Homo sapiens: one gene and its partners. The protein of the gene in region 4 purifies or fractionates together with the protein of the main gene of each other region. This does not show direct contact. Each region holds a gene or a part of one and is shown on either strand. Other genes may lie near its edges.

What was found.
Region 1: the proteins of ARHGEF17 (region 4) and RPL10L purify together in Homo sapiens (affinity purification with mass spectrometry, with the first as the bait; one large-scale study listed by BioGRID). This does not show direct contact.
Region 2: the proteins of ARHGEF17 (region 4) and RDX purify together in Homo sapiens (co-immunoprecipitation; one large-scale study listed by IntAct). This does not show direct contact.
Region 3: the proteins of ARHGEF17 (region 4) and LBR purify together in Homo sapiens (affinity purification with mass spectrometry, with the first as the bait; one large-scale study listed by BioGRID). This does not show direct contact.
Region 5: the proteins of ARHGEF17 (region 4) and P4HA3 purify together in Homo sapiens (co-immunoprecipitation; one large-scale study listed by IntAct). This does not show direct contact.
Region 6: the proteins of ARHGEF17 (region 4) and FAM98A purify together in Homo sapiens (co-immunoprecipitation; one large-scale study listed by IntAct). This does not show direct contact.

What each region holds. Positions count from the first base shown.
Region 1 is NC_000014.9:46,649,186-46,653,792, reverse strand, and holds RPL10L (ribosomal protein uL16-like), read left to right. Parts: upstream 1-2,011; 5' UTR 2,012-2,056; coding exon 2,057-2,701; 3' UTR 2,702-2,783; downstream 2,784-4,607. UniProt on the Homo sapiens protein: Testis-specific component of the ribosome, which is required for the transition from prophase to metaphase in male meiosis I. Compensates for the inactivated X-linked RPL10 paralog during spermatogenesis.
Region 2 is NC_000011.10:110,288,193-110,293,614, reverse strand, and holds part of RDX (radixin), read left to right. Parts: intron 1-5,422. UniProt on the Homo sapiens protein: Probably plays a crucial role in the binding of the barbed end of actin filaments to the plasma membrane.
Region 3 is NC_000001.11:225,413,912-225,419,333, forward strand, and holds part of LBR (delta(14)-sterol reductase LBR), read right to left. Parts: coding exon 5,352-5,422; intron 4,270-5,351; coding exon 4,073-4,269; intron 1,422-4,072; coding exon 1,367-1,421; intron 1-1,366. UniProt on the Homo sapiens protein: Catalyzes the reduction of the C14-unsaturated bond of lanosterol, as part of the metabolic pathway leading to cholesterol biosynthesis.
Region 4 is NC_000011.10:73,362,805-73,368,226, forward strand, and holds part of ARHGEF17 (rho guanine nucleotide exchange factor 17), read left to right. Parts: intron 1-401; coding exon 402-651; intron 652-942; coding exon 943-1,029; intron 1,030-1,367; coding exon 1,368-1,435; intron 1,436-1,647; coding exon 1,648-1,796; intron 1,797-2,585; coding exon 2,586-2,760; intron 2,761-2,873; coding exon 2,874-3,143; intron 3,144-4,779; coding exon 4,780-4,976; 3' UTR 4,977-5,422. UniProt on the Homo sapiens protein: Acts as a guanine nucleotide exchange factor (GEF) for RhoA GTPases.
Region 5 is NC_000011.10:74,271,719-74,277,140, reverse strand, and holds part of P4HA3 (prolyl 4-hydroxylase subunit alpha-3 isoform 1 precursor), read left to right. Parts: coding exon 1-156; intron 157-3,533; coding exon 3,534-3,596; intron 3,597-5,422. UniProt on the Homo sapiens protein: Catalyzes the post-translational formation of 4-hydroxyproline in -Xaa-Pro-Gly- sequences in collagens and other proteins.
Region 6 is NC_000002.12:33,584,908-33,589,899, forward strand, and holds part of FAM98A (protein FAM98A), read right to left. Parts: intron 3,613-4,992; coding exon 3,428-3,612; intron 2,414-3,427; coding exon 2,333-2,413; intron 1,772-2,332; coding exon 1,655-1,771; intron 791-1,654; coding exon 623-790; intron 538-622; coding exon 1-537. UniProt on the Homo sapiens protein: Positively stimulates PRMT1-induced protein arginine methylation. Involved in skeletal homeostasis. Positively regulates lysosome peripheral distribution and ruffled border formation in osteoclasts.

The DNA of each region.
Region 1 (4,607 bases), on a different chromosome or scaffold from region 4:
TTCTGCAGTATTGCGAAGTCTTCCTTTCTGATCTCCTTGCATACCTTTTTTGGGCTGGTTTCAGTCTATTCACCATACCATAACCAGAGTGATGAAACCTAAGTAAAGCTCTTTAATGGCCTCACATTAAAGATCAGGATCCCTAACTTGGTAAAATGGGCCCTGTATGAAAGCATGACCCCTTCTCTCTCACACATACACACACTCTGGGCTCATGTTATGTGACTCATTTTCTCACTCACAGTCACATTGGCCTGACTTTAAGTTCCTTAAAATGTTCCATATTTCTGCCTGCTTCAGGCCTTTTATACATCAGACCCCATGTGCCATGGTCACTACATGAAATTTCTTTTCTGATAAAGATTTTCCTGTCTATTCCTCAGTCTGGATCAAGGTCTCATCCCCAGCCTCATCCCACAGTCTCAGGGCTTACTTTGCTTTTCCTTTTTGGCACATTTTACACTTGGTAATATGATGATATATGAGAAGTATCTATATCCTCTCCTAGGCTTGTAAGCTTGGTGAGAGCAACATGGTATTAGCTACTTTATCTCAATATGTTAAACAGGAACTAGTTGAGAAAAAGGGGAAAGAAGAAATGAAGGAAGAAAAGGGAAGTGAGAAAGCTTTCTTAAAGGTCAGAAAGTTTTCTACATTGGGAGATTTAATTGTTTTATCTTTAGTATTTTGTAAAAATCCACTCACTTTAAGGGCAGGAGTTATTTTTCTCCCTTAAAACAAAGAGTATTGACAGAATATATTCACATTGGGGGGATTTTGTTCCATGATGTAATGGATTTGTGAAACAACATTAAAACAAAAAAGAAAACTAGAAAAATGCAAGTAGGGTTTGTAAACTATTAATTTCTTTTCCTCTCTCTTCTTCCTCCTTTCCTACACTCTGATCCCTGTCATAATATTTTTACAAACTCTGAGAAGAAAAAAAGTTTAAATTTATTCTCAGGGGCAAAAGATTACTAAAACACAAACTGTTACTCTTTTATATAGTTTCAGCAGCTTTAACATTTGAAAATGCAAATAGCCTTAAGTTAAAAAAAATCTAGTTGGTGTTTCAATTTTGTATATATCATTTTGATAATAAAATCATTTCTTTAGGCCAAATAAAGAAAAAACAAAGTTTCATGTTTATAAAACAATTGCCAAGCTACAGATACAACAGATATCTTCTCTTTATCCCTCTCTCTTCTCTTCCTCTCATCTCTTCCTGAGTCTCATCAAAGCACTCATGCCAAGAAACCACTTTATCCAGGGAAGGTGGCCACATAACCCAAGAAACAGCAATTGATCTACAAATGCTGACAGTGAGATACAAGCTCTGGAAAATGAACTGACCAAACTGGAAACAGCATGTTGAATAACTGGAAGGATTTTTCCTCTCAAATTCTAGGATTTCTTTTTTTCTTTTTCTTTAGACAGGGTCTCCCTCTGTCACTCAAGCTGGAGTGCAGTGGTGCTATCTCAGCTCACTGCAGTTTCTGCCTGCAGGGCCCAGGCGATCCTCCCACCTCAGCCTCCTGAGTAGCTGGGACTACAAGCATGTGCCACCATGCCCAGCTATTTGATATATATATATTTTTTTTTTTGTAGAGACAGCATTTCACTATATTGCCCAGGCTGGCCTCGAACTCCTGAGCTCAAGAGATTCTCCTGCCTGGAAATAACCTCTTTTATACTTAAAGCAAAGCTGAAAGCAAGAGTTCCTAGCCCAAGATGGCTAGCAGAAAGGAAGCAGCAGCTGTGCAGTTGGGGCGGGGCCCAATTCCTTCCCTGGCCGCCAGGGGGAGTCTACCCACAGCTGACTCTGCTCACCTTAAGCGCGCCACTTGGCGCAGGCGCTGAGGCGCCAGACGTCCCTGCGTCTCTGGTTGGGACGTCCTGAAAGAGAGTCGTCACATCCTCCTCAGGACTCTATGGTTCCGGCCTCAGGACTCTATGGTTCCCGCGAGGGACGAGGGGCAACGTATATAAATGCGCGCAGGCGTAGTTAAGAGAGCGCATTTTGACTTCGAGGCACCGCCGACGTTACTGTGTCGCCATGGGGCGCCGTCCAGCTCGCTGTTACCGGTATTGTAAGAACAAGCCGTACCCAAAATCTCGTTTCTGCCGAGGGGTTCCTGATGCCAAGATCCGCATCTTTGACCTGGGTAGAAAGAAGGCAAAAGTGGATGAGTTCCCACTCGGTGGCCACATGGTGTCTGATGAATATGAGCAGCTGTCTTCTGAAGCCCTGGAGGCCGCCCGTATTTGTGCCAACAAATACATGGTGAAAAGTTGTGGCAGAGATGGCTTTCACATGCGAGTGCGGCTCCATCCCTTCCATGTCATCCGCATCAACAAGATGTTGTCCTGTGCTGGGGCTGACAGGCTCCAGACAGGTATGCGAGGTGCCTTTGGAAAACCCCAGGGTACTGTAGCCCGGGTCCACATTGGTCAAGTCATCATGTCCATCCGCACCAAGCTTCAGAACGAGGAGCATGTGATTGAAGCCTTGCGCAGGGCCAAGTTCAAGTTCCCTGGACGCCAGAAGATTCATATCTCCAAGAAGTGGGGCTTCACGAAGTTTAATGCTGACGAATTTGAAGACATGGTGGCCAAGAAGTGCCTCATCCCTGATGGTTGTGGAGTCAAGTACGTTCCCAGTCATGGCCCCTTGGACAAGTGGCGGGTTCTGCACTCATGAAGGTTTTGGCAGTACTGTCTCCTTGGGCCATGCTGGTCTGACTTATGCTTACTAATAAATTCTGTTTACTGGCAAAAAATAACTCCTTATTAAGTTTTAATATTTTTTAAATATCCAATGTTTTAGAATATAGACTACTAGAGAATTTTTTTCTATTTATTCAGTTTTAATGGCAAATGTTACCTTCCTTGCTTCAGTAAAACTATACAATTTATAGAGAAAGCTGTTTTAAGCAAACACTTTAAATTTAGGAGAGTATAGAGCAATATGTTGAAAGTTTTGTTTGTAGTAAAGTCATAAGTTATGCAGCTATCATTCCTTGAATAAAAAATAGATTTGAGTGAAAAAATTTGTTTATAGAATATAAACTAAACAGTAGCGATGAAAATAATAGTAGGCATTAGTGATATTTCACCCACAGCCTCTTTGGAAGTAATTTATTTCTAAACTTGGTTGCCTTATGTTTTTCTATAAATTTCTGTACATTGTTTTTAGAATTACCTTACACGTCTGATTATCAGCCTTAGGACAATTGAGTATCACTCTGAAAGGCTTTTCCAGACGAACTTTACATTGTCTCACAGTCAAGAGATAACAGTCTAATCTTTTTTTCATCATAGAAAGGTCATAGGTGACAACAGAGTTCATATTACTTGTATCTGGGCTCCAGTAGAACCAAAAGAAGAGAGAAAATGACACTAAATCGGTTATCTGTGCTATAAAAGGACCCTAAAGAGAGTTTGCAATTGTAGGTGCTTGCCCTGAATTAGAGTTACGTTGATGACACAGGTGCTTTTTGTTTTATTTTTGAAACTACATAAGCTAAAATTCCTGAGTTTGTACTGCATTAAAAAAAATTCTTGTTCTTTACAATTGACTTAGCCTTTTGAATCTCAATCCTGCTAACAGTGCCTTCAGTGTTTTTAGACTAACGGTTCTTTTTCAAAGTCAACACATTTAATGAAAACAACAAAAGAAATAGTAAGAAACACTACTATTTAATTTTCATTTATTTAAAGAAATGCTATGTCAGTCTTAACATATTGTATCTGGCTGGATATTTATTTTAGGCCCTTGCTATAAGATATTTCCTATTTGTATATATTTAAGCTATGTTGCTATTTTAAGACGTTTTTCATGTTTGCGTTTTACCACACTTTCAAAAACGAAAATTCAACCTCTAAATAATAATAATAATCAAAAGAGAAAGGCAATACAAAACACAATAAAATCAGCAACCCCTTAGCTTCTAGTACAACCATGGCCCAGCTTTGAAAATATTTTCCATCTTCATTATTTCCCTTTCTCTTTGGTCTTAAACCTCTCAAAACATCTTGACCTTCAAACTTGGAACTCTGCACTCAACTAAATATATAGGGAGAGAGGTTAAGTATAAGCTCATGAACTTCCTTGCCCTAAGAGATTGGTAACAGTAATTGTTTATGCATATAGATATGGGAGTGAAGAGGAAATGAATGATTAAGAATTAATGCATTAAAAACTGGTAGGTAGCTGTCAATAAATTTTTTATTTGAATTTTCCCACAGTTTCACGTTATAAAGATTATATATAAATTCTTTTTTTAAACGTTGACATACAAGCACTTTTACTTGTTTTTGTTAAAAATCCTTCCTACTAATTTTCCCCAAGTCATTATTTTGTTTTTTCAGCATTTTCTTATTTTAGGGTCATTCTAATTATTTAAAAAAAAAATAGTAAGACAATTGGGCTGAAGGATCATTTAATTATAATTTTGCAGAGTTCGTTATTTTAAAATTTCTGCTCAAAATAGAAAATTGCATTTGGGAACATATTTCTGTTCATCTACTGCTGCAATAAAATGAACTGTTTGCTCGTTTTAAATAAAAGAATACAAGTGTAGTTAATGAAATTCCAGCAAATACTG
Region 2 (5,422 bases), about 37 Mb from region 4:
AGATTATTTTAAGTCTCATGGCATTACTGATCCAGCTGAAGACTGTTCTGGTAACTTCCTTGATTGCTGCAGCCAGGGTGTGCGTACTGCTTTGATGATAGAGGTGTCCAATCTGGCCCCAGAGAGTTCCTCAATTTCTAGCCTATTTTAGAGAAATCCTGCCTTTCCTACTTTAAGTTCCTGGTGTATATCTTTATATTGAATGTATAGCTTAAGCCATTTAAAAAAAACTATAAAAGTGATATATTTTATGGCAAAGTTTAAAAACTCAGAAAAATGTCAAGGAAAAGGTCAAAGTCCTCCTTACTCCCTGGAACACCCCAGCCCCTTTCCCAGTCCTGTTTTCCATAGGTAGCTGCTGTCGGCAATTCCTTGTTTATAGAAAATGCCAGTAGGTATGCAGGGATAAACATATACTTTATATCCCTTATTTGTGATTTTAAAGTCTTGTTAAAATAGGGTTATATTGTAACAGACATTGAAAGGATGCTTATTAACTTGTGTTAAACATTGAGTAAATCATATTTCTCATGTTTTCATCATTTGAATAAAAGCACACAATAGAATTCCCTACGCTAATTCTCAAGTGTGTGTATGTGCAAATTTGTTTGTGTACAGATTTTCTTGATTAATGATTGAAGATGAAGTTTACTTTTTGTTTTCTAGCATATGGCATATAGTTGACAATGAGAAATGGTGTCTTTTAAAAAAGGAGGTTTATAATTTGGTGTGGGAAATAGCCACATCTTGCTCTTTACAAAAAAAGTTTGCCAACTCCTTAGAAAAAACATCCTGTTGAAAGGATATTTTAGATACAGTATTGAAGAAACAGGTACTTCATTGTTTATTTTCTCTAAGATTATAGAATTTATAAAGCTATTAGTAATTGAGATAATGGACTGTTTTCTTCTGAGTTGTAGATAATCTCTATGGCTTTCAGGACCTTAAATGTTTTTTTTTTTTAATTTATTTGTGAAAAGTTTAAGTCAACTAGGACTGACTGCAGGTAAATTTGTGAAGTGAGCGCTCTTCAGTTTTGAGCCCTTAGATCCTTTAAGATGCATTGGCATCAAATAGCAGAAAATTCTCCAACTGGTTTAAACAATGAGGAAATTTAATGTCATTTTTTTCTTCATTTTTTTTTGAAAACAGAGTCTTCCTCTGTCACCCAAGCTGGAGTGCAGTGGCACTATTACAGCTCACTGCAGCCTTGACCTCCTGGGCTCAAGTGATCCTTTAAGTTCCTCCCACATCAGTCTCCCTAGTAGCTGCCAACACAGGCGTGTGCCACCATGCCTAGCTAATTTTTTTTTTTTTTTTCCAAGACAGGGTCTCGCTCTGTTGCCCAGGCTGGAATGCAGTGGCATGATCTCAGCTCACTACAGCCTCTGCCTCCAGGGTTCAAGCGATTCTCCTGCCTCAGCTTCCCTAGTAGCTGGGATTTAAGGCACATGCCACCAGGCCCGGCTAATTTTTGTATTTTTAGTAGAGACAGGGTGTTACCATGTTGGCCAGGCTGGTCTCAAACTCCTGACCTCAAGTGATCTGCCCGCCTTGGCCTCCCAGTGTGCTGGGATTACAGGTGTGAACCACTGTGCCTGGCCAACAACTAATTTTTTAAAAAGCCTTTTTGTAGATACGGGGTATCCCTATGTTGCCCAGGCTGGTCTCAAATGATCATCCTGCCTCAGACTTCCTGCCTTGGACTTTCTGCCTCGGCCTCCTGAAGTGCTGGGAGGATTACAGGTGTGAGCCACCATGCCTGGCCAAAATTTAATGTCTTGCATACTAAAAGTCCAGAGGCTCAAGAATGGTTCAATAATGACATCAAGGACTCCTTCTCTTTCCAACTCTCTTCCCTGTGATTTTCCCTATTAACTTCATACTAAGACAGCCCTTACCCATCTCAATTTGGCTGCTGCAAAGGAGCCAGGAGCGGTGGTGTGGACCTGTAGTCCCAGCTACTCAGAATGCTGAGGTTGGGGTATCACTTGAGCCTGGGAGGTCAAGCCTGCAGTTAGCCCCTTGTCCCAGTTTGGCTGCTGCATCCCATCCAGACAGGGCAGTATCCAAAGGAATAAGAGGAACTGTTTCCAGAAACCCCCAAGCAGATGTCTTTCGAGCCTCATTGGCCAGGATTGGGGCACATTCTATACCTAACCAGTCAACTGGCAAGGGTAATGGAATTGCCCTTTCTTCCAACTCTGTTCCCAATAGATACTTCTTTTTTCTTTTTCCTTCCTCCCTCCGTCCCTCCCTTTTTCCCTGTCTCCCTCCTTCTCTCTGTCACTGTCACCTCTCTGCTGCTGGAGTACAGTGGCATGATCATAGCTCCATGCCACGAACTCCAGGGCTTTGAACTCCGGGGCTCAGGCAGTCCTCCCACCTCAGCCTCTGGAGTAGCTAAGACTACATGTGCACACCACCATGCTTGGCTGATTTTAATTTTTTTTAGAGATACAGTTTCACTATGTTGCCCAGGCTAGTCTCAAACTTCTGGCCTCAAGTGATCCTCCTGCCTCAGCCTCCTAAAGTGCAGGCAACTGCACCCAGCCCTGTTATTTTCATTATTCATCTATATTACATGTCTTCGGTCCTTTTTTTACCCCCACCCAAAGTCATATCCAAAATTGATCCATTACAGATAGTCATATGTAGTGAGCTCATATCTTTGTAGGTACCAACTTCAGTTAAATTATGAAAGGAAAAGTGTTGATTCTTGTTAAAATACTTGGCAAATTGTGGTCCATGGGCTAAACCCAGCCTACTGCCTGTTTTTATAAAGTTTTATTTGAACACATCGTAGCTGACTTGTTTACATATTATCTATGGCTGCTTTCCTGCTACAACAGTAGAATGGTTTCAACAGAGACTGTGTGGCTTACAAAGCTTATAATGTTTACTTACCTGGCCCTTTACGGAAAAAGTTTGCCGACCACTGCTTTAAGATGTCAGTCGTACATTTGGACAGTTATTATATGCCACATACTCTTTGCATTTGAGAATGGAAAGATGAGTAAAATACTCAGGAGTTCTCACTCTAATGGGCAGATAGATGTGCCATATTGTATTCATAAAGTGTGTTAAGTGCTTTTTTTTTTTTCTTTTTGAGACTGTCTCTGTTGCCCAGGCCAGAGTGCGGTGGCTTGATTATAGCTCACTGTGACCTTGACCTCCCAGGCTGAAGTGATCCCTCCACCTCAGTCTCCCAAGTAGCTGGAACTATAGGAGCTTGCCACCACTCCCGGCTTTTTTATTTTTTGTAGACACGGGGTCTCACCATGTTGCCCAGGCTGTCCTGGGTTCAAGTGATCCTCCCGCCTCAGCCTCCCAAAGTGCTGGGATTACAGGCGTGAGCCACCACACCTGGCCTGTTAAGTGTCACAGTAGTGTGTATAAGTTAATTAATACTCCTTGCAGCAGCATTTTAAGCACAGTATTCTGTGCTGTGAGTTCTGGATGTTTCTTGCTTCCTCTGTTTTTTTTTCTTTGTTAAATCTTCCTGTTGTTTTTGTAAATTGACTGATAATCTTTTAATAAGTTAACCAGAGTGGGTATTTTTGTTTATAACAAAAAATCCTGGTGAGTACATGGAATAATGTGGATGCATTAATGCAACGTAAGGACCCTTGTTTTTTTTTTTTTTTTTTTTTTTTTTGAGACAGTCTCACTTTGTCACCCAGGCTGGAGTGCAGTGGCATGATCTCAGCTCATTGCAGCCTCTGCCTCCTGGATTCATGCAATTCACCTGCCTCAGCGTCCCGAGTAGTTGGGACTACAGATGCACACCACCAAACAGGTCACCACGTCTGACTAATTTTTATATTTTTAGTAGAGACGGGACTAATTTTTATATTTTTAGTAGAGACGGAGTTTCGCCGTGTTGGCTAGGCTGGTCTTGAACTCCTGACCTCAAGTGATTCACCCGCCTTGGCTTCCCAAAGTGCCGAGATTTCTGGTGTGAGCCACCGCCCCCAGTCAACATAAGGACTCTGAGTGAAAGGGAGAATGGGAACATAGAAAATCTCAGCTGTGGTTAATTGACTTTAGATCCCTTTGGCTTGGATTAAATTTTCTTAGCCATTGTGAGGACTCCTGATACTTAAGCTGTTTATAGGTTCTAGACTTAGAAAAACTATAAAAACTTAGTTTGGCTATTCAGCAAAGTTAGTATATATCACCAGAAAGCTTACTGCTAATATCTAATCAACAAGCAGCATGGTAATTACAGTTATCATTAAGTGTGTCAAATTATCTGGCCTTTAATTTGATTGTCAACTTAATTGAAATTATTAAAACAGTTTTGGATAGAGATGGTTAAGGCTTGAATTTGGGAGGCCTAGTTGTAAAAAGTTTTTTTTTTTTTTTTTTTTTTTGAGATAGAGTTTTGCTCTTGTTGCCGAGGCTGGAGTGCAATGGCGCGATCTTGGCTCACCACAACCTCGGCCTCCCAGGTTCAAGTGATTCTCCTGCCTCAGCTTCTCAAGTAGCTGGGATTACAGGCATGCGCCACCACGCTCGGCTAATTTTTTATTTTTGGTAGAGATGGGGGTTTCTCCATGTTGGTCAGGCTGGTCTCGAACTCCCAACCTCAGGTGATCCGCTCACCTGGGCCTCCCACAGTGCTGGGATTGCAGGTGTGAGCCACCACGCCCAGCTGTAAGGAGCTTTTTTTGTTCCCCATGTTCATGTTGGTTCTCTCTTCTTAGTGATGCTTATTAGTTTGGTCATTTTACAACATAAAAAAAGAGAGGAAACTATTGCCCTTGACACTAATCAACAGAAAAATTAAAACTAGTATTATGTGTAAGATTAATTCACCAACAAAATCAACAGACATTTTGAGGCCCAACTGTGAACCAGGCATTGTATCAGTTTTTCAAAAAAGGGAGTTAATATCTAGAAAATTAGAAGCTTAATTTTTTTATAGCAATAGAACTGCCATATAGCCTCGTTGACTGTGTTAGAGAATATTGTCTAATTATAAAGACATTTAAGAAACATACTGACTTTGTTCTGTTTTGAAAATAAGCTATAATATCTGATGTTTCAAAGCACATTAAGGGTAGAATTATTTGTGAGAATTATTTTGTGTTTGCTTCTTTCCTGTTATATAAGTGACTTGCATGAACCTGTTTTCCCATTTCTAAACATTTTTATGTGAATGTTTAATGTTTTCTTAAGAGTGAAATGAGGAAGTTGAACTGGATTTAGCTTTCTTACCTTTTAGTATTTAATAATTGCAAATGATAGTGTATTATTTTGTTTTCTGCTCACCTTAGGAACAATACAGGTATGATTTTCCTTTTTAAATTTACAAAACTCTTAGAAGAGATCCTAAACTCAGTGTAAAACTTTGGTGTTAATATTGCAGTTCAGCTTTATAAATTTTAGAAATTTGCTTTGCATTTTCAGTAACATG
Region 3 (5,422 bases), on a different chromosome or scaffold from region 4:
CCCCTCAGAGGGAAGTGAAAATATAACACAAGACTACTTAGAAAAGAATTGGTACCTACAGAGAAACACACAAAACACTGAAATCAAAGGACCTGGCGGCAAAGTCAACAACCCACCTCACCCCAGACTCACCTTCCCTGGTGTGGTAAGTGAACCACCAGAGGGAGGGAGGGTGCCAAAGGTTCTAAAACTTGCTCCATCAGCAAAGAATTTGGTAAAAGCAACAAAAAGTCTAACAATACCAATGATAAGTATTAAGCACCCACCAGGGGTCAGACTCTGGAGCTGGGGGAGACGTTTTATCACATGACTGGCACTAAAAGGCAGAAGGTGTCTAAACTATCTTTGGCTTCCCCTTTAGAACCCAGTGGAGTGACTGCAGACAGAGTAGATGCTGCGTAAGTCTCTAAACAAAGTATCCAAAGTTAAAAAATGAAGAATTGAAAGGATAAAAAGTTCAACCATTACAATACATAATGTAATTCTCAAGAAAAGGAAAACACTCTACTCCGTCTTGTCAAATGGAAAATCATTCAAGGATGACTACAAAATAGATCTGTACTTTGCCAAAGTCTTCAAATGACAAAGCTGGACTGAAGCACTCAGCACATGCTCTTACAGTGCGAGATGCCGGACCCACAGGGAGCAAGGTCTATCCATTTATTGAGCTGCCCAGCAAGCTCACAACTCATCCATCCAGCACTCACATATGAATGAGCACCCACTACATGCCCATCTTCCTAGCACCAAGAGTGTCACAATGAACATAGCCAAGTCCTAGCCCATGAAGCCACATTCTAGTGGAGAGACCCTAATGAAGAGACAAATACACTGATGTGTGGAGGCACAAATGTCAGACAGAAAAACAAAACAGAGCAGGGGAGAGAAAGGGACCTGAAGGCTTCTCTCAGCAGAAGACAGATGGAGGTGAAGATGCAGGTGTCAGACGTTTGGGGGTAAGTTCTCCAGGCAAAGGCCCAGGAAGTGTGTGTGACGAATATTCAAGGGACAACCCAGAGGACATGAGCAAGGACAAGAGCAGCTCACGCAGCAGGAGTGGCCTGGATGCCCACATCCGTGTAACACCTCAGGTGATAAAATCCTAGACAAGTGCAATGATTTCTAACAGTGATGAGCACTATTAAGAAAATAAAACTGGAGAGTGGACAAGAGTGACTAAGAGGCTATGTTACTTTAATGGCATAATTTATACAAGTTGGCTACAGGTATAAACAGTTGCTCTTCCAACTACTAAGAAATAATTTATCACTTACTACTCTGGTCTAATCAGCTTTAACAAAGAGTTTAACACTTAGAAGTTTAAGCTATCAAATCATCAATTTGAGTCTTAAAAAAAGAAAATCACCATTTAATCTATACTTGAGTCTTCTTCCATCAATAAGAGGCGTTCCTTCTACAACCTTAAAAGAAAAAAAATTTACAAATTTACTAAGCACATCACCATCATATATACATATATACACACACACATATATATATTCTAGTATCACTTAATTTTCAACACGCCCAAGAAGGAAGATATCTTGTAACATGGAAATTTAGTAATATGTTTCAAAAACCCTAGTGGCAAGCCCTTTAATGACGCAATTCCACCTTCAGGAATTTATCTTAAATACAAATTCAGTAATGACTTCCTAGTGTAGGACCAAGCAACTGCAACAGCCACGCTCCCTGCCACACTCCTGTGTACCACCACCTCAAGACTAAATGTGCTTAAATACCTTTATATCTAGTGGATCCCTAGCTCAAACATCTACCAATGGCTACCATACTCTTACAAAGTAACAGTATGATTCCATTGTCTTCCATTTGTGGGGTCCTTTTCAATTGGGCTCTACCCTGTTTATCCACTCTACTATGACCCAAGTGCTATTTGATGACGCATACTCATATGCTTACTTGCTCTGCTATATATTATATATATATTGCCCATCCAGTTATTTAACCATTTCATGTGATTCTTTTATCTGCAATAAGAGACTGTGAGAAACCAGGTGTGGTGACTCATGCCTGTAATCCCAGCACTTTGAGAGGTCAAGGTGGGAGGATCACTTGAGTCCAGGAGTTGGAGACCAGCCTGGGCAACATGGTGAAATCCCCTCTCTACAAAAATACAAAATACAAAAACTAGCCAAGCCTGGTGGCACGCGCCTGTGGTCCCAGCTACTCGGGAGGCTGAAGTGGGAAGATGACTTCAGCCCAGGAGGAGGTTGCAGATTGCACCACTGCACTCCAGCCTGGGCAACAGAGCAAGACCCTGTCTCAAGAAAAAAAAAAAAAAAGAGAGAGAGAGAGAGAGACTGTGAGCACGCATCATGCATCAGAACCATCTCCTCTCTTCATTCGGCATCACTCACAGCATTCAGCACAGAGATACCCACAGGCATGGTACCCAATAGAACTGGCTCAGTAAAAAGTCCACTTGCTCAATGCAGCCACGTTTTACCCCACAAAATAACTATTCAGAAATGTAGCAATTCATTTCAAACTGTAAAATATAAATATAGTATCATTTGCTCTGGGCTAAACTACTTTATCTTATCATTAGCTACAGATTTCATTAGCTAGCATTCCTCCTCTCCCAAGAGAAACGTAAAAGCTGTTTGAGATCACAGGATTAGTAAAATGCCACATGCTAATTTCAGATGATCCTTATCTATTAAAGGAGTCTAGTAAATGCTGTGTTAGGCTTTAATCTGTGAATATATAGATCCAAATATACAGTCAGCCCTCCGTATCGACGGGATCCACATCCATGGATTCAACCAACCAGATCCAAAATATTTCGGAAAAAATTGCATCTGAGCTGAATATGTACAGACTTCTTTTTCTTGTCCTTATTCCCTAATACAGTATGATAACTATTTACATGGCACTTACGTTGTATTAGGTATTATAAGCAACCTAAAGGCAACAAAGTATACAAGGAAGATGCACACAGGTTATATGCAAATACTATACTATTTCTTATCAGGGCCTTCAGCATCCTCAGATTTTGGTATGTACAGGAGGTCCTGGAACCACTCCCCAAGGATATCAAGGGATGACTGCATAATATTAATATATATTTTAATATATATGCTTTTAGTCACTTTAGTCTATGAGTATATACATATATGACTTTAAACACCAAAACTGCTTTCCTTGATACTCTGAAATCACCTTACCCTAAATGAATCTGAATTTAACTGTAGAGGCTTACTGTAGAAATGACTGAAGGTCTTTATCACAAAAATCCTTGCTAGAGCCACTAAAGTTATGGTCTCACTCCACAGTATTAAGCCTGCAGCTCTACCCTCCTATCACTGGCATTCACCAGTAAAACCGATCCTTTGGTTTACAGACAGTTGGCAAACTTGCAAAGCCCTAAGAATAAGATCTTTAAATAAATTATTTATTACTTAGGGAATCTCATGTTTCTTTAAATATATCCAAGTAAAGGATTCTACTGAAAGAAGAAAAAACTACACTTAGCAATGGAGAGACAAATTTTAAAGATATTGCAGGAATCTGAAAACAACGTAAAATGTTCTTGACAACAAGCTTCTGAAAGAGATGAAAATTAGAAACTTTTCATACTTTTTTAAAGTAAAAGATGTAGACTAAAGTCCATCGAGCCCAGTAGCCTATCAATTAATCATTTAAAATGCTGCATCTGAAATGACACATACTAAGAGTGAATTTTTTTTCCATAGCAACCTCCACTGAGAGTCGGCTACTTTGCAAAATAGCCTATTCTTTTCTATTTGGTTTGAAAAGTTACACAAGAAATCTCAATCAGATTTTTTTTTAAGTTCCTCCTAATAAGCAAGTGTTATACAGACAGCACAAGAGAAATGGCTTCATGAACTAAGTTTTGGGAATTATGACCAACAACAGCCTTTAACCTTTAAACTACTCTAAGGCTGGGCAGCATGGCACAGGCCTGTGGTCCCAGCGACTCAGGAGGCTGCGGCAAGAGGATCACTTGATCCCAGAAATTGGAGACCCGCCTGGACAATATAGTGAGACCTCATCTTATTAAAACAAAACAGAATTACCATAAACGTACCTTTCCAATTGGCAGTAGGTAGAACAGGACTTGAATCAAAAACCACAGGAGGTAGACCCCAAATACTCTGGTTTCCCATAACTCATACAAAGCTGGCAAAGGAGGAGGGAAATTCAGAAGACTGGGATCTTTCTGTTTACACATCAACAGCAACAGGAAGAGGAACACAGGCAGGCCAAACATGATGAGAAACACACCTGCAAACAATTCATGAACATTCGAGGCTCAAATTTCAATCTGGTTTATTTATTTAAGAATCATGTTAGATTTGTTAAGATCAGAACTCGTTATCTGGCTAACTGTCTGAAACCAATTTCTAATGTACCATCAAAAACTCCCATCTCTACCTGTCACCTCTGGTGGCCTGGCAACCATGGGCATCAAAGTAGTAAAAAAAATAAATAAATAAAAATAAAAAAAAAAAGAAAGAGGTCCAACATTGAATAGCTACACCCACCTCAGAAACCAAGCTCTAAAACATTTGACCTCCAACCACTAAGGAGCGAATGTGTTGAAACTCCAGCAAACTGAAGATCAGAACATCTAAAAATTATCAGCCTAATCTTAACAAAAAACTTTATATTCCTCAGTTTCTAACAATTAAAATAGTGTCACGTTCATGTAATGTGTGCAGATTTTAAGTGATGCTGGACAGCATCTGTAACAGGCCAGCTAGCCAAAGGTTATAACAAAATACAAAGCAATTAAGCCATGCAGGATTTTGAGCCATTTAGACAAGAAGTCTTTTCTTTTACTAGCTCATAAAATTTCATCAGTTCCACCCACTTAGTAACTCCAAAACTCTGCACACTTCAGATCTTTGACCCTCACAATCAACCCGCCTAGCAGGTAGGGCAGCCTCCGGGATCCCATTTTATGCAGGCAGCTGAGGCCCACTGCTGGCCCCTGCCGCCTCAGGTCTGACTATTAGCAGAGCTCTCTGTCCCTGATAAGTAACCATCTATGCTATACAAACTCCCAGATCAACCTTCCTTTATCACTTCTTTGTACTTCTGTGCTCAAAACCTCTGAACAGACTGCTAAAAGTTTTAAACACAGCTACAATGGCATCCTTTCTACTCCATAATCCCTCAAAATGCTCCCACCTCAAGCCTTTGCACCCACTGTTCCTTCTCTGGAAGGCTCTTCCACAGGTTCCCACCAGGCTCATTACCTTGCCTGCCTCAGATGTCTTCAGAGAGGCCTTTCCAGTTCACCTTGTGGCAACCACCCCTAGCTCACCCCACCTGCCCTCTCTGGGCCCAGCTCTGAGGCCTACCAGGTACTCCTCCAAACTCCAAGTCCTTTGCCCGGATGGGGGTCACTTCAAAGGTTCTCACTGCCAGTTCT
Region 4 (5,422 bases):
AGGGACCAGTGTAGGGCAAAGGCATGGCGTCAGACCTCAGGATGTTAGCACACAGAGCAATGAGGGCAGGGGATGTGACACCAAGGATCCAGAGGACAGTGGGACAGTCAGGCGGGATCATGAAGACCCTGGAGCACTCAGCTAAGGAAGATGGGGTGCTGGTGGAGTGGGGACCCACGGTGTGGCCACTGGGTCTGAGGGGCCAGGCAAGATCAAGGATTCTGTAGTGCTGAGCTGTCGGTGAGCAGGGCAGCAGGGCAGCAGACCGGAGCAGGCCGGGGAAGAACAGCTTTGAGAGGCCTTCCGGAGGGGCATGGCCAGGAGGGATGCATGGCCTAGAAAGATATCAGGTCCCAGGCCTGGCAGAGGGAAATGGAGACAGAGACCTTTGTCTCCCTCAGATGAGGAGACCCCGAGTTCCAAGGAGGCCACGGCAGAGACCACCAGCTCAGAGGAGGAGCAGGAGCCAGGCTTCCTGCCACTGTCTGGCTCCTTTGGGCCTGGTGGTCCCTGCGGCACCAGCCCAATGGATGGGAGAGCCCTTCGCCGCTCCAGCCACGGCTCCTTCACCCGGGGCAGCCTTGAGGACCTGCTGAGTGTCGACCCTGAGGCCTACCAGAGCTCCGTGTGGCTGGGCACTGAGGATGGCTGGTAGGGACAGGGGAGGGACTAGGGACACAGTGCCAGAACTCTGAGCTCCCTGCTCTGGAAATCATGTGGTCCCCTGGAGCCAAGGCAGGAGGGCTTTGGGTCACACCTCAGGGGTACTGCTGACCAGGGATGTCAGTGGGTCTGACAATCCCAGGGAGGCTGTGGGACCTCAGTACCTTGGGCAGGCACCCAGCATTGAAGACGTGGTGCTAGGGGCAAAGAGGTGGAGGGATGACTCCAGGGGCTGGTGTGCCCCAAGCATTTGTCCCAGGTGCATACCCCGATCCACAGTGTCCACGTGTACCAGTCCTCCGACAGCATCCGTGACCGCAGGAACAGCATGAAGCTCCAGCATGCGGCCTCTGTGACCTGCATCTTGTAAGGCCCCAGGGTGGCCCTTCCTATCTAGACTCTTCTCAGCCACACGTGCAGGCCTCCTTCTGTTCATCTGGTCCCCCTGCTCTACTGTCCCTCCTCTGTGTGGAGGCTGGAAGCCAGAGGCCTGGCCCTAGGCTAGCTGTGCCTCTTACACACTGTGTGAGCTCGGGCAAGTCACCCCCTTTTCTTAGCCTCAGGCAACCCCCACCTGGAGAACAAGGGGTGGGAAGAGGTGGCCTCTCGGGAGCCATACCCATTCTATCTGTGGTTCCCCTGGTCCTGGGTGACCCACTTTGGCTGCCTGAACTCCCTTACTGCTTCCTCTTTTCCCTACCCAGGTATCTGAATAACCAGGTGTTTGTGTCTCTGGCCAATGGAGAGCTTGTGGTCTACCAAAGGGAAGCAGGTGAGTATCTGCCCTCCCCCACACCCTGCCCCTGTCCCCTTACTGGTGTTGGGGCTCTCTCCTGGAGATGTGGCTTTGGGCAACTCCCAGGCCCTCTGTGGGCCTTGGTTTCTTTGCTTATAAAAGGGGAATGTTAACATCTCATTTCAGGGGAGACCGAGGCTCAAATTTAGAACTGGAGTGAATTTCCTGTTTTCTTTACCCCACTCCAGGCCATTTCTGGGACCCCCAGAACTTCAAATCAGTGACCTTGGGCACCCAGGGGAGCCCCATCACCAAGATGGTATCTGTGGGTGGGCGGCTGTGGTGTGGCTGCCAGAACCGAGTCCTTGTCCTGAGCCCTGACACGCTGCAGCTGGAGGTAGCAGGGGGTGGGGGAATGGAATTGGTGCCATGGGATGAGCTAGGTCCGTGTGACAGGGAGATGGAGACCATGGTAGGGGCATAAGCAGCATCCAGCAGAGGGCTAGGGCCTTCCTCTGACCACAGAGTGACGCTGGCCAGTCCCTGTCCTCCTTCGATCCTCATTTCTTCTGTAGCTGATGAGGAATACAGTAAGTGTCCCATATACATTAGGAATCTTATTCATCCTCCTGCCCACCCTATCTCTCAACTCAGGTTTTAGGGTCCTTTGGGGATAGGACAAGAGTCCTTTCTGATGTCAACATCCATTAGCATTAGACTCTGGCATTTATTGCTGCACATGTCACTTGCACACATGTCAGAAGTATCCAGGGGCAACGGGTTCCCTTAATTTCCCTCACTTATTCCATTGTTGGCTGGGCAGGAGTCCAAAGCCCTGGGTTCAGGCCCCAGCTCTGTGACTGACTTGCTGTGTGACCTTTCCCTTCTAGGCTTCAGCTTCCCCACCTGTCCAGGGGGAGGCCAGTGACTGATTTTAGAACCCTTTAAGCATTGAAGTTCTCTGATCCTTAAATCACTCAAGTTTAATGGGGAAAAAGCACCTCCATTGTAATTCCTGAGAACTAAGTTGGGAGGTGCTGGTGAAACCAAGCTTCGAAAGGTTAATCAGACCAAGGACCAACGCTAGTGTGAGTTGTGAGGGATGGACACTGGTGAAGCTCCAGGCTAGGGTGGGCCAAGGGAGGCAGGCCTGCCAATGACCCATCTTCTCCCCCGCCTTCCCCAGCACATGTTTTACGTGGGTCAGGATTCAAGCCGCTGCGTGGCTTGCATGGTGGACTCCAGCCTGGGTGTGTGGGTGACATTGAAAGGTAGTGCCCACGTGTGTCTCTACCATCCAGACACCTTTGAGCAGCTGGCAGAAGTAGACGTCACTCCTCCCGTGCACAGGATGCTGGCAGGTACTGACCTCAAACTACCACAGCACCCTCCTTGGAGCCTTTCTGCCCGATCGTAGAGGCGGCTGAGCCAGGGCCAGAATTCAGCCCCAGCTGTGGTCTGTCTCCCACCCCAGGCTCGGATGCCATCATCCGGCAGCACAAGGCTGCCTGTCTGCGAATCACAGCGCTGCTGGTGTGTGAGGAGCTGCTGTGGGTGGGCACCAGTGCTGGTGTCGTCCTCACCATGCCCACTTCGCCCGGTACTGTCAGCTGCCCACGGGCACCACTCAGTCCCACAGGCCTCGGCCAGGGACACACCGGCCACGTCCGCTTCTTGGCTGCAGTCCAGCTGCCAGATGGCTTCAACCTGCTCTGCCCAACCCCACCACCTCCCCCAGACACAGGTGGGTCAGTGCATCATACCCCAAGCTAGGGATCATGGACATTTGGTTTAGGACTCCCCACTATCCTGCCAGAAGAGCTTTCAAGAGGGAGGAAAAGTGTCACATAGAGCTGGAGGTGGCATATGTGACAGGAAATACACCACGGAAGTGTCCAAATGAAATCTAGGATAGTTGTGTGTGTGTGTGTGTGTGTGCGCACCTGCATGTGTTGTGTGTATATAAAGTTCTATCCAGAGAAATGTCATGAGAGACAGGGAGGGAACTATAACCTAAGAGGTAGAATATGTCACAAATAGAATATGTATATAGAAAATATGTCCTGTTGTATATATTTCCTATATGCACCAGGAAATAGCACAGGACTAGAAATGATATATAGGGCAGGAAGTGGAATCAGGAAGTGATGCACAGAGCAGGAAATAGAAATAGCAACAGAAAACAACATAGAATGGCACTAGCACAGAAAATGGACTGATAATTAGAAAGTGAAACAGCCGGGTGCCAGGCGCGGTGGCTCACACCTGTAATCCCAGCAGTTTGGGAGGATGAGGTGGGAGGATCGCTTGAGCCCAGGAGTTCAGGACCCAGCCTGGGCAACATGGTGAGACACCATCTCTACAAAAAATACAAAAATTAGCCATGTGTGGTGGCACACACCTGTGGTTCCAGCTGCTCAGGAGGCTGAGCTGAGGTGGGAGACTCACTTGAGCCCAGGGAAGTCGAGGCTGCAGTCAGCAGAGATTGCACCACTGCACCCCAGCCTGGGTGACAGAGTGATACCCTGTCTCAAAAAAATAAAAATAAAAATATGGCCGGGCGTGGTGGCTGACACCTGTAATCCCAGCACTTTGAGAGGTTGAAGGGGGTGGATCACCTGAGGTCAGGAGTTCGAGACCAGCCTGGCCAACATGGTGAAAACCCATCTCTACTAAAAATACAAAAACTAGCTGGGTGTGGTGGCGGGCGCCTGTAATCCCAGCTACTCGGGAGGCTGAAGCAGGAGAATCACTTGAACCAGGGAGGCGGAGGTTGCAGTGAGCCAAGAGTATGTGCCATTGCACTCCAGCCCAGGCAACAAGAGCAAAATTCCGTCTCAAAAAAAAAAGTGAAACAGCAGGAAATGAGGTACATCAGGAGGCCACAACCAGAAAAGTCTTGCTTTGGCAGGACAAGAAATGATATTCCCAAGAGGAAGTGGCTGTGGAAATCAGGAAGCAATAAAGCCTCGGGTCAGGAGTTGTCTGGGTTCACAGAAGACTTAAGCTACCTGGGAAAGGGCTGTTGGAAGTAGGAGGCTTATTTAATGCAAGGACGTTGCGTGCAGTAATCAAGAGAGATAGAAAGTGGCATCTTACAGGGCACTTACATTGTAAAAAGAAAAAAATCAGAAGTGGCGTCACCTTGGGAAATTATGTGACTCCTGACTAGAGATTACAGATGGGACATAAGAAGTCTGGCTGCCAAGAAGTGGGCATTTCTTTCTAAATAAGTTCCTAGCTAACAGAAAGTGGGATTCCCCCATAGGAAGTGTGCACATCTTCCTTCCTATCTTCTGGGGTGTGGGAATTCAGGCCCCGATGGGACAGTGAAGCCTCCATTCGCCCCCAAGCTGACAGATCCTCCCCTCTGCCCCCAGGCCCCGAGAAGCTGCCATCACTGGAGCACCGGGACTCCCCTTGGCACCGAGGCCCCGCCCCTGCCAGGCCTAAAATGCTGGTTATCAGTGGAGGTGATGGCTATGAGGACTTCCGACTCAGCAGTGGGGGCGGCAGCAGCAGTGAGACTGTGGGTCGAGACGACAGCACAAACCACCTCCTCCTGTGGAGGGTGTGACCCTGTCTGCCGTGGCCCAGGACTCGCCCGCCCACCTGCCTTCAGCCTGCTTGCCTCTCCCTAGCCCACACGCAGACTTTGACCAGGAGTATCCAGCCAGGGGCACACATGTGCCTGCGTGGGCTCTGCCTTGTCTTCGCGGAAGCATTCCTGATGGAACACCCACTGGCCAGCCAGGCCATGGCTTCTCCCGACCCTCTGGCTGCCCCGGTGCTTCCAGTCATGATCGGGTGGGGGACATGTGGGCTGACCAGGACCTCTGACCCTGGAGCTTCTACCAAAGACACAGCTGGGTCTGGACCCCACGGGGCTGGGGAGGGCCATGTGCAATATTTGGAGGGTTTTCTGGAGGGCAGCAGGAAGGCTGGGGAATTCCCCATGTACAGTATTTATGTTTCTTTTTAGATGTGTACCTTCCCAAGCACTTATTTATGCAGTGACCTGGT
Region 5 (5,422 bases), 910 kb from region 4:
TGGCTGAAGGACACTGTTGACCCAAAACTGGTGACCCTCAACCACCGCATTGCTGCCCTCACAGGCCTTGATGTCCGGCCTCCCTATGCAGAGTATCTGCAGGTGGTGAACTATGGCATCGGAGGACACTATGAGCCTCACTTTGACCATGCTACGGTAATGGTGGAGTCAATGACCAATCCCCTGGGGTAGGGAGCCAGGGCATTATTTATTTCTCTGAGGCAGAGCTCTTGTAGGCTCTCAGGGAATACTAAGTGAAATCTTAGAACAAAGGTTCTTTTTCCAGAAATATCTGAAAGCCTTAGTTTCAAGCATATTGTTGCTGACTCATTTTCTTGTCTGCCACCATCTCCCTTCTAAAATTTGCTGGTGAGGGAAGAATGTGGCTTGTCATGGAATCATCGGACTGCTCCACTCAGGGACTTCCTAGTGAGGATTGTCCTTCCTCCAGTAACTCTTCTAGCCTCATGATCTCAACTGGCCATCTTTGCTGATAATAGCAAATAATTTTTTTAAAATTTTAGATTCATGGGGTACATGTGCTTGTTTTTTATTTACGTATTTATTTATGTATTTATTTTTTTCTTTATAGGCAGCATCTTGCTCTGTTGCCCAGGCTGCAGTGTAGTGGCACCATCATAGCTCACTGCAGTCTTGAACTCCTGGGCTAAGTGATCCCCCCATCTCAGCCTCCCAAGTAGCTCTAGGACTACACCTGGCTAATTTAAAAAAATTTTTTTTGTAGAGACAAGGTCCTGCTATGTTGCCCAGGCTTGTCTTGAGCTCCTGGGCTCAAGCGATCCTCCCACCTCAGTCTCCCAAAGTGCTGACATTACAGGAGTGAGCCACTGCACCCAGCCATACTTGTTATATGGGTATTGCATGTGTAATGGTGGGGACCACACTTCTAGTGTACCCATCACCCAACTATTGAATGTTTTACCTGACACGTAATTTTTGAACTCTCACTCCCCTTTCACCCTCCCCCATTTTGCAGTTTCCAGTGTTTGTTACCTCCATCTTTATGTCCATGTGTACCCATTGTTTAGCCCCCACTTATAAGTGAGGACATGCAATATCTTATCTTCTGCTTTTGAGTTAGTTCACTTAGGATAATGGCCTCCAGCTCCATCCATGTTGCTGCAGAGGAAATTATTTCATTCTTTTTATGGCTGGATAGTATTCTGTTATGTATATATACCTTATTTTCTTTATCAAATCAACCATCGATGGACATTTAGGTTGGTTCCATGACTTTGCTGTTGTGAATAGTGCTGCAATAAATATCTGGGTGCAGGTGTTTTTTCTGTAATATAATACTTTATTTTCCTTTGGGTAGATACCCAGTAGTGATTTTTGAGGATTAAAATGACCTCCCCAAAATTGATCTATAAATTGAACCCCAGCTTTATAAAAATTCCAGGAGGTTTATTTTTGTAGAAATTAGCATGCTGATCCTAAAATGTATATGGAAATGCAAAAAACCTAGAGCAGCCAAAACAATTTTGAAAAAGAAGAACAAATTGGAGGACATACACTATCTGATCTCAAAACTTAATATAGAGCTACAGGAATCAAGGCAGTGTGGTACCAGTGTAAGGAGAGACACATATGTCAATGGAACAGAACAGAGTCCAGAAACAAACCAACACATTTATGATCAATTGGTTTTGACAAAGGTGCCAAGGAAATTCAATGAAGAAAATACAATCTTTTCAATAGACAGTATTGGAACAATTTAATATCTATCTGCAAAATAATAATGACTTTACACCCTTACCTTACACCATATATGAAAATTAACACAAAATGGGTCATAGATGTAAATGTAAAACTATAAAACTTCTAGAAGAAAACATAAGAGAAAATTTTTGTGACCACAGGTTAGGCAAAGATTTCTTAGATATGACACCAAAGTATGATCCATAAAAGAAGAAAACAACTGATAAATTGGACCTTATCAAATTAAAATTCTTTGCTTTTCAAAAAACATCATTAGAAAAGGAAAAGACAAGCCACCAACTAGGAGAAAATATTTGCAAATCATATATTTGGTAAAGAACTTGTATCCAAAATATCTATAGAACTTTTATAACTCAGTAATAAGATAATTCAATTTTTTTTAATGGACAGAAAGTTATTTGAGTAGGCACCTCTCCAAAAAGGATAAATGAATGGCTAAGAAACATATGGAAAGATGCTCAACATCATTAGGGAAATGCAAATTAAAACCACAATGAGATAGCACTGCACTCTCTTATGATGGCTACAATAAAATAAGATTATACCAAGTGGTGGTGAGGATGTGGAGGAACTGAAGCTCTCATACACTGCTAGTGGGAATGCAAAATTATACAGACACTTTGGAAAAAAGTTTGATGGTTTCTTAAAAAGTTTAAGATTCACCTACTTATGATCCAGCCATTTCACACCTATGTATATTACCCAAAAGAAAAAGAAAATATGTCTCTACAAACATTTGTACAGAAAAGTTTATAGTAGCTTTATTTGTAATAACCAAGAATTGGGGCTGGGCACGGTGGCTCATGCCTGTAATCCCAGCACTTTGGGAGGCCAAGGCAGGCGGATCACGAGGTCAGAAGATCGAGACCATCCTGGCTAACACAGTGAAACCCCGTCTCTACTAAAAATACAAAAAAAAAAAAAATTAGCTGGGCATGGTGGCAGGCGCCTGTAGTCCCAGCTACTTGGGAGGCTGAGGCAGGAGAATGGCATGAACCTGGGAGGCAGAGGTTGCAGTGAGCTGAGATCACGCCACTGCACTCCAGCCTGGGCAACAGAGTGAGACTCCATCTCAAAAACAAAAAAAAAAAAACAAAAAAAAAACCAAGAATTGGAAACAGCCCAGATGTCTGTCAACAGGTGAACGGATAAACAAATTTTGATATATCTGCACAATGGAATGCTATAGAGAGAAAGCAGATAAGTGGGTTGCCTGAGGTTGGAGGTGAGAGCAGGGATTGACTCCTAACTGGCATGAAGGAGCTTTTCAGCAGATGGAAGTGTTCTGTGTTCTAAACTTCAATTGTGGGAAAACTCATTGAACAGTAGGCTTACAAGGGGTGAATTTTATGGAATATAAATCATATCTCAAACTGTTCCATGACAAAAAAAAAAGAGTATGTCTCTTCAGCAAGTAATTGGAACTCTGGCCTTATGATTTGGTATTTCTACAGAATAATTGTCTGTAATATTTTATATATTAATTTCTATATTTCACAGAGAACTCAAAGGTGCAATTAACCCCTCATATAGTACTTTCACTACTGACAAGTAGTTCTGTTTGGTAGTAGACAATTCTTTTATATAAGTATCTAATAAATTAGTAAAAAAAAAAATTGTATTGAGTACCTGCCAGCAAAGACGGGCACATACTCCAGTAGGTGTATATCAGAACTATATCCCATCTTTGATGCCCCCATTTTACTTCTATTTGTATTAATAGTGGAATCCTGCCTGTCCCTCTGGTGCCATCTGCATAAAATAATATGTTCTGTTTTTTTTTTTCTCAGTCACCAAGCAGCCCCCTCTACAGAATGAAGTCAGGAAACCGAGTTGCAACATTTATGATCTATGTGAGTATTGCTCTGGGCTTCTTACTTCATGACTGACTATAGCTCTACTTTATTTTATTGTTTTCAAAGCAATTTCACGTATTGATTTTATCTGGTACTCAGCGCAAAAATCTCCAGGAATTTTGCGAATTTCAGACAGCATTTTTGATAGGCACTGTAGGAGATGTAAAGAAATACAAGACAAGGTTTCTACCCTGAAAGAGGCTGACAGTGTGTAAATCTAAATATGACCTTGGTATGGGCAGTGGATTAGGATGGGAAGTGGAGCTCCACTGAAGGCCAAGAGATAGAGGGACTTGAACAACACAGGAGGAGGATCTGAGAATCTGTGTCCTTGAGGTCTCATGGACTAATCAGTGTTGAAAAACAACCCATAGATGAGGTTGTGGGGCTGTGGGGAGGGAGATGGATGAGGAATGAGGCAGCAGATTTACAAGAGGGAAGAACAGAGACACTGAGAGAAATTCAGCAAGTGCTGCCTCTGATGTTTAGTGAAAATTCTCTTCCTTATCTCTCTATAAAATCTTCAGTAAAATCTCCATGACTCCCCTTTCAAGATAAACCAATAAATTGTACTTCTCTCCTAATTCCTGGCCTGATCAGGATTCGGCCCCAGTCTGTATCATCTCACCTGTCCCCTTCCCTTCAGATCATGTGGGTTTACTTTCGTCTCTATGGACAAGCTTCCAATCACCTGTCACTGGAAGAGAATATTAGAATTAATCACTTATTAGAAGAGATACCTTACTGTTAACTGAAGGGACAAACATATATAAGGGTTCTATATAACAACCAAAGATGAAGTCCTTGTTTCAGCCTCATTAGAATAGCAGACATCCCTCACCCCAGCTTTTCCTCTTCTATTAGGACTGTCTCTGGTCTCCACAGGACAGCCAAGAAAGGGCAGTCAGAGGCCAGCATTCTGTGTAGTCTTTAATGCCAGCAATTCCAGTGTGTTTCTCTATGTGGCTCAGTTCTGTACTTCCTATGGAACTGGAAGGCTTCCACTTACAATGGTGTCTGGCCTCATTCTGATCATTCTGAGGTCAGCTATCAGGCAGGGGACACATCTTGGAGCTGCAGTTGGTTGCATCTCTGGTTGACCACTCCAGCTGTTATGGGAGGTCACAAACGGCGAAAGAATGAACTGCTGCCAAAAAACAGGGCATCTAGGGCACAATATATCTCTGTTCTTTATCCCCTCAATATCTCCTATGGCTGGTTCCCTGGTTACAGGGCCCCAGTTACTATAGCGAAGGTAGCGTGGGTATAAGAGCCCAGTAATTTTAAATGGCAAATGCATGTGTGTGTGTGTGTGTGTGTGTATGTGTGTGCATGCACTCTCATGCACTTTCACATGTGTGTGCATGCATGTGCATTTGGGTTTTAAGTATTTGAGACAGAGTGGAATGGAATACACTTTGGATTTGGAGTCAGTTGACCTAATCCTGATTTTGCCACTTACTATGTGGCCTCAGCACAGATTACATCTATTATGTGAGCTCACTTTTTGCCCTGTGCTTCCTCACAGTGTTGTTGTGAGGGTCTGATGAGATAATGTAAGGAGGGATGTCACTCTGGAAAGTTCCATACTGTATGTTTCTGTCATTGTATCCCACAGAGCAATTAAAGGAAAGGGTATCATAAAGGGGAATCAGTATCATGGGACCAGGGAAGTGCTAGATTATGCCCAAGTCTTTCATCTTCAGGTTGGGATTTCTCGAGACAATTTCAAGACAAACATTTCTCAAGACAAATGTTAAGGTTTGTGGGAAACCTAAGACTGATTTTATAGGGAGAAAATAATCTTTAAGAAGTACAGAGGA
Region 6 (4,992 bases), on a different chromosome or scaffold from region 4:
GCCTGCACGACCACCTCGGCCTCCACGACCACCTCGCCCACCACGACCACCACCACGATCACCATGGTGCCCGCCATCTTGGTATCTATTGTCCTGCTGGTAGCCACCACCCTGGTATCCACTTCCTGTATATGAAGAAGATGTTTGGAAGCCACCATAACCTCCGCCTTGATAGCCACCACTGCTGTGGCCACCATGATAGCCACCTGGCTGGAAACCTGAATCTCGATAACCACCATCTTGGTAGCCACCTCCTCCACCACTCCCTCCATCTGTCCAGCCTCCTTGATGCTTATTTCCTCTTCCTCCCCCTCGGCCACCATGGTCATAGCCACCACGTCCACCTCTCCCGCCTCCTTGTTCATGACCTCCTCGTCCTCCGTATGAGGAATGTTCATAGCCACCTCTCCCTCCTCCTCGGCCTCCTGTTTGCTGCTGGGGGCCATCTTGCCTCTTCTGCCACGGTGGCATCTCTGGGGGTGGAGGTTCGATTTCATTGGGTCTACCACCTCTGTCAGGCACCCTGCCCATCAACACCTACAGAATAGGAAAGATATTTTAAACTTTTATTTTATGAACAGAAATAAATGCATTTGGAAAAAATTAAAGGTACTCTAATCACCTTATTGATGGCACAGGCAGTCTTTTCTCTTATAGAGCCGCTGCTTGTCCTTAAAATCTTTGACAAGTCCTGCCTTGCAGCCAAAAGATGGGCAACAGAAATAGTAGTTTTAGGGGATAAGACTGAACGTTTCGGCTGGTAAACCTTGGCTAATTTTTCTGTCTGGCTCTGTTGAAAGAAAAGTGTTCAAAGAGAAATGTCAATTTTCAAAATGACATAAGAAACACATATTAAATAAGTTAAAGGTCTCCAAAATATCTGATAATGATATTTACTAGGCTCTAGATGGTAGGAAAAGTTATATACTCACTACTGCTCCTACATAGTCAAGAACTACCTTAAAAGTACAGCTGCCAGACTTGTTGACACAACAAGGAGTGACAGGGACTGTGGGGGCAGGGGTGGAGTGAGAGGGTGCCCCTTTAGGGTTATGAGGCCAACGTGATAAAAAGGTTCCCCCATCATTGGTCTCAGATCAAACATACTCATTTTCTCTATTTAAATATAAGAATATAAAGCTATTTCAACAATTTTGCTTTTTAATTTTCCTATCTTTGGTTTCTATGAGGTAATAACTATCTGCTGAATGACCAAGGTCTTTACCTGGATTGTCTCATTTAGCTGAAAAAAAACTTAAGTCTTACCAAATTCTCCAATTGTCTATAAATCATACCAAATCCAATATTTCTAACTTCTATTAGCAAATTAAATTATTTAAAGTAAACAAGTAATTTGAAATCAATTTATTATTTTAGTAATTTTCAGAATAACTCCATTTCTCTCATAATAAGAACTTCTCTCTCCAATAAGAACTGTAAAATTCAGATTTGTTAAAAAATAGAAAATTGAAAAATAAATGTTTTCATCATTGCTGAATAGTTGAAAGAGCCACTACTCAATAACTCACTAAGGAAAAATCCCTATGTGTGTCTTCTATGTACTTCTCCCATAGTTGCCAAGTAGCTAAATTGTTTAGATGTTCAGGGATCATGTCTATAAATAGTCTGCTCTTTTAAATTATTTAATGTGTACCTTAGCTCTGTCAGACCAGCCAAAGGATTGTACAGTGACATCCAAACGTTTTATTAGCAGCTTTCTCCGGACTTCATATTCATTGGCTATGGCTTGGTTAATTGCTTCTATCTTTTCCTGAAGCAAAATTAAAAAGACTAGTTAGAGTTTAAATCTGCTTGATTCTCTGTCCCAAAAGGGCAAAAACTACGTCTGTGTCATTCATAACTGAGATCCCGGCCATTTAACAGTCAAAAGTTCTTATTCCATATAATATACTAACAATTAATGAAATGATAGGTGACAAAAAGCTGATTCACAAAACATAATGAAGAGTATGTGAAGTACACAATTCTTATTTATCTTTCCCATAATTTACTGTGTGAAGCTCAGCCCAGTGAAGTTTTTGGCTTGAAGGCAATCCATTTGGCAACGAGAAACATGCACCATACTTAATTTCAGTTTACTTTTATCAGCTGTGTGAAATATTTACAAAGTATGAGAAAAGTGCTTCTAATCTTACACAAATAAAAATATTCTGCAGAAATCCTGAGATTCACAAAATGATTCTAAGGGTGTTCAACTAGAAAACTATGTATAAGAAAACATAATTTAAAAAGCACAAAATGTAAGTGTTGACATGAAAATCATAAACTCTATAGTTCTTTACAAAGTTTACTCAAGATGATTACTACTCACCCAGTGGGCTGGTCCCATTGGCTTCTTCAGTAAAGGCTTTCCCACATGATTAGGTGGAACTTTTGCTAATGTTTCCTTTAACTGACACAAAAACATAAATAAATGAATAAAAACTCTAAAAGTAAAACATCCTCATCTTCCCAATTCCCATCATATCTTGCCATCAAAAGAAGATTCCTGACAGAGGCAAAGGTGGAGGATGTTTTGAAATGCAAATGTAAAAGACCCACAAGATAAAGACACTCACTGGTCCCACTCCTCACGCCTACAGAAGTCCTTCATTGCACCTAGAACAGTGCCTGACAACAGTAGGCACTCAATGAACATTTGCTGAATGGATGAATGAACACACAGGAAAATATGGACTATGGATACACTGCTGCTCCCCTGTAGAGTTCAGCCAAATTTGTGCATCATGGTGCTGGTCTACCCCACAATGCAAATGTACCAATTCTTAAGAGTCCAGCAGATAAGCGTATAGGGAATAACTGTGCTTTAACAAATACCGTTCTCTTCTACTCATTTTTGTTAAAATTGCTTGTTCCTAATTAATTATATAGAAAATCTTAACTGATAATGTGTGGTATAAAAATAATTCTAATTTCTTTTCACATACTAGATTATGTTAGCAGTCAACAAATCTATTTTGTCAATTGAAGCATGAGGTTTGAAGTGACTGGATTAAAAAACAAAAATATTAATATCCTTTCTGTCCAGTCAATGGGGAGGAGGGTGGTAACATTTAGTGATAAAGAACTTAAATTGACTGTATCAAAGTTCAATGATAAAATAATTTTTAAAAGGACTGAAATCTTAATCCTTTTTACATTATATCTAGCTTACTTTAGCTTACAAACCAGTGTAAAGTTTCCTTTTTGAAAAAGAAACATGCTAACATGTTTTTAGGAAAATACTAAAATACTAATTTATCTTTAAGGCATCTAGGATTTAAAACCCAAAACTCATTTCGTAACAATTACTTAATAATATATGCACATTAGGTTCCCATTAAGAGAAATTAAATTAATTGCTTCATTTCAAACAAATGTAGGACTATGCCTTTAATACACTACAATTTGGTACTAAAGGTCTTACTTTTTTTTCAATCCCGCTGAAGAATTGGAACATAGTTATATTGGCTGGAGGTTTGGACATTCCTAGAGCAATACATATGCCTTTCAACTCTTGAAAGACCTCACTACCGCCTCCTTCTTGAGCTTTTTTTGGAGGAGCATTCACACAGAGCATTCTGGCAGCTTCTAGTTCTGAGATGAGGTATGCTGAAGTAAACAAAATAAGATTTCAAAATGAGATACAGCTATAGTTATAGTCATAAGTCTGGAGTCACAACTATATAGACCTATTGATATGTAACTGTTAAAGCTGCAAGAATGGATAAAAACAAGAAAGAAAAACTACTTTTACCTGCAAATGAAATAAGAAATAAACTGGTTATGTAATTCAGTTATTTAAGCGATATATAATGTTTAAATGTTAATTTTAAAATAAGCGATTCTCTTTGAAACCGAAGGATCGAGGTAAGTAACATCTAAAAATTTGGAATCTTGAATTCTGGTATTAAGGAACCTCCAGAACAGGGGTTGGCATCTGTTAAAAATTTTGCAAAAGAAGGCAGGTGACCAATTTTTAATGACAATTAATTTTTTTTTTTTAACTTCTCACTACTTGTGAGCATCAATGACACAACTACCTTGCTCTCTTGTCTCCCATTAATTAGGAGCCTGTCCAGAAGAGGTGTGAAACAACATTTATAAGAAGTCAAAGCTTAACTCACAGGAGAAGCAGGAAGGCACCCCAGAGCTCCTTTCCCATGGTCTCCAAATCTTATGTTGCCCTCTGGCTAATCAAAGAGAGCCCTCTTTCATCTATATTCTTCTCAGGACTCCCTTCCCCCTACTTTCCTCACCCCATTCCCTTCAAAACAACCATAAAACCTTCAAAGCACTTTTTGGCATGGTTCCCTTTGTGTCAGTATCATCCCCTTGTGTGCTGATTTCAGCCTGGTATAATGGGGGCTGCAATCTGTTTCAGGTAATTCAGTTGAAGGTATAAATATTCAATCTCATTCCTTTAACATTCCCAAGGACATTTCAATTTTTATAAAAGATGATTAAGAATCATTTGAATCTTAGGATTTCTGGTTATGTGACAAAGTGAGATTCTTCTGACAATATAACAAAACCAGTTTTGGGAAAAGATATTTTCAAGGCCCTCAGGTCCTATTAGAAGTAGAAAAAAGTCAACTTGTGTATCAAATTTCCTATACCCAAAATGTAATGCTAGAAGGACAGAGGCCATAATTTTGGCAAATCATTTCTGAAAGGCTGCCAACTCCTGTTCTAAAACAATAAATACAGCTAAGTTTCTGGAAAGGTCATTCTAAATGGATTTGACACTGTAAAATCTTAACATGTTCCATACAGCAAACTGTATTTATGAGTTAAAACGTCAAAACAGTAAAACCCCACTGTTAAGACAACAACCACTGTTTTTGTACATAAGGTTTCATTAGGACACTGCCACACTCACTCATTTATATATTGTCTATGGCTGCTTTCATGCTGTAACAGCAAAGGTATGTAGTTGTGACAGAGAACTTAGGGCCACAAAGCCAAAAATATTTACTATCTGGCCCTTTT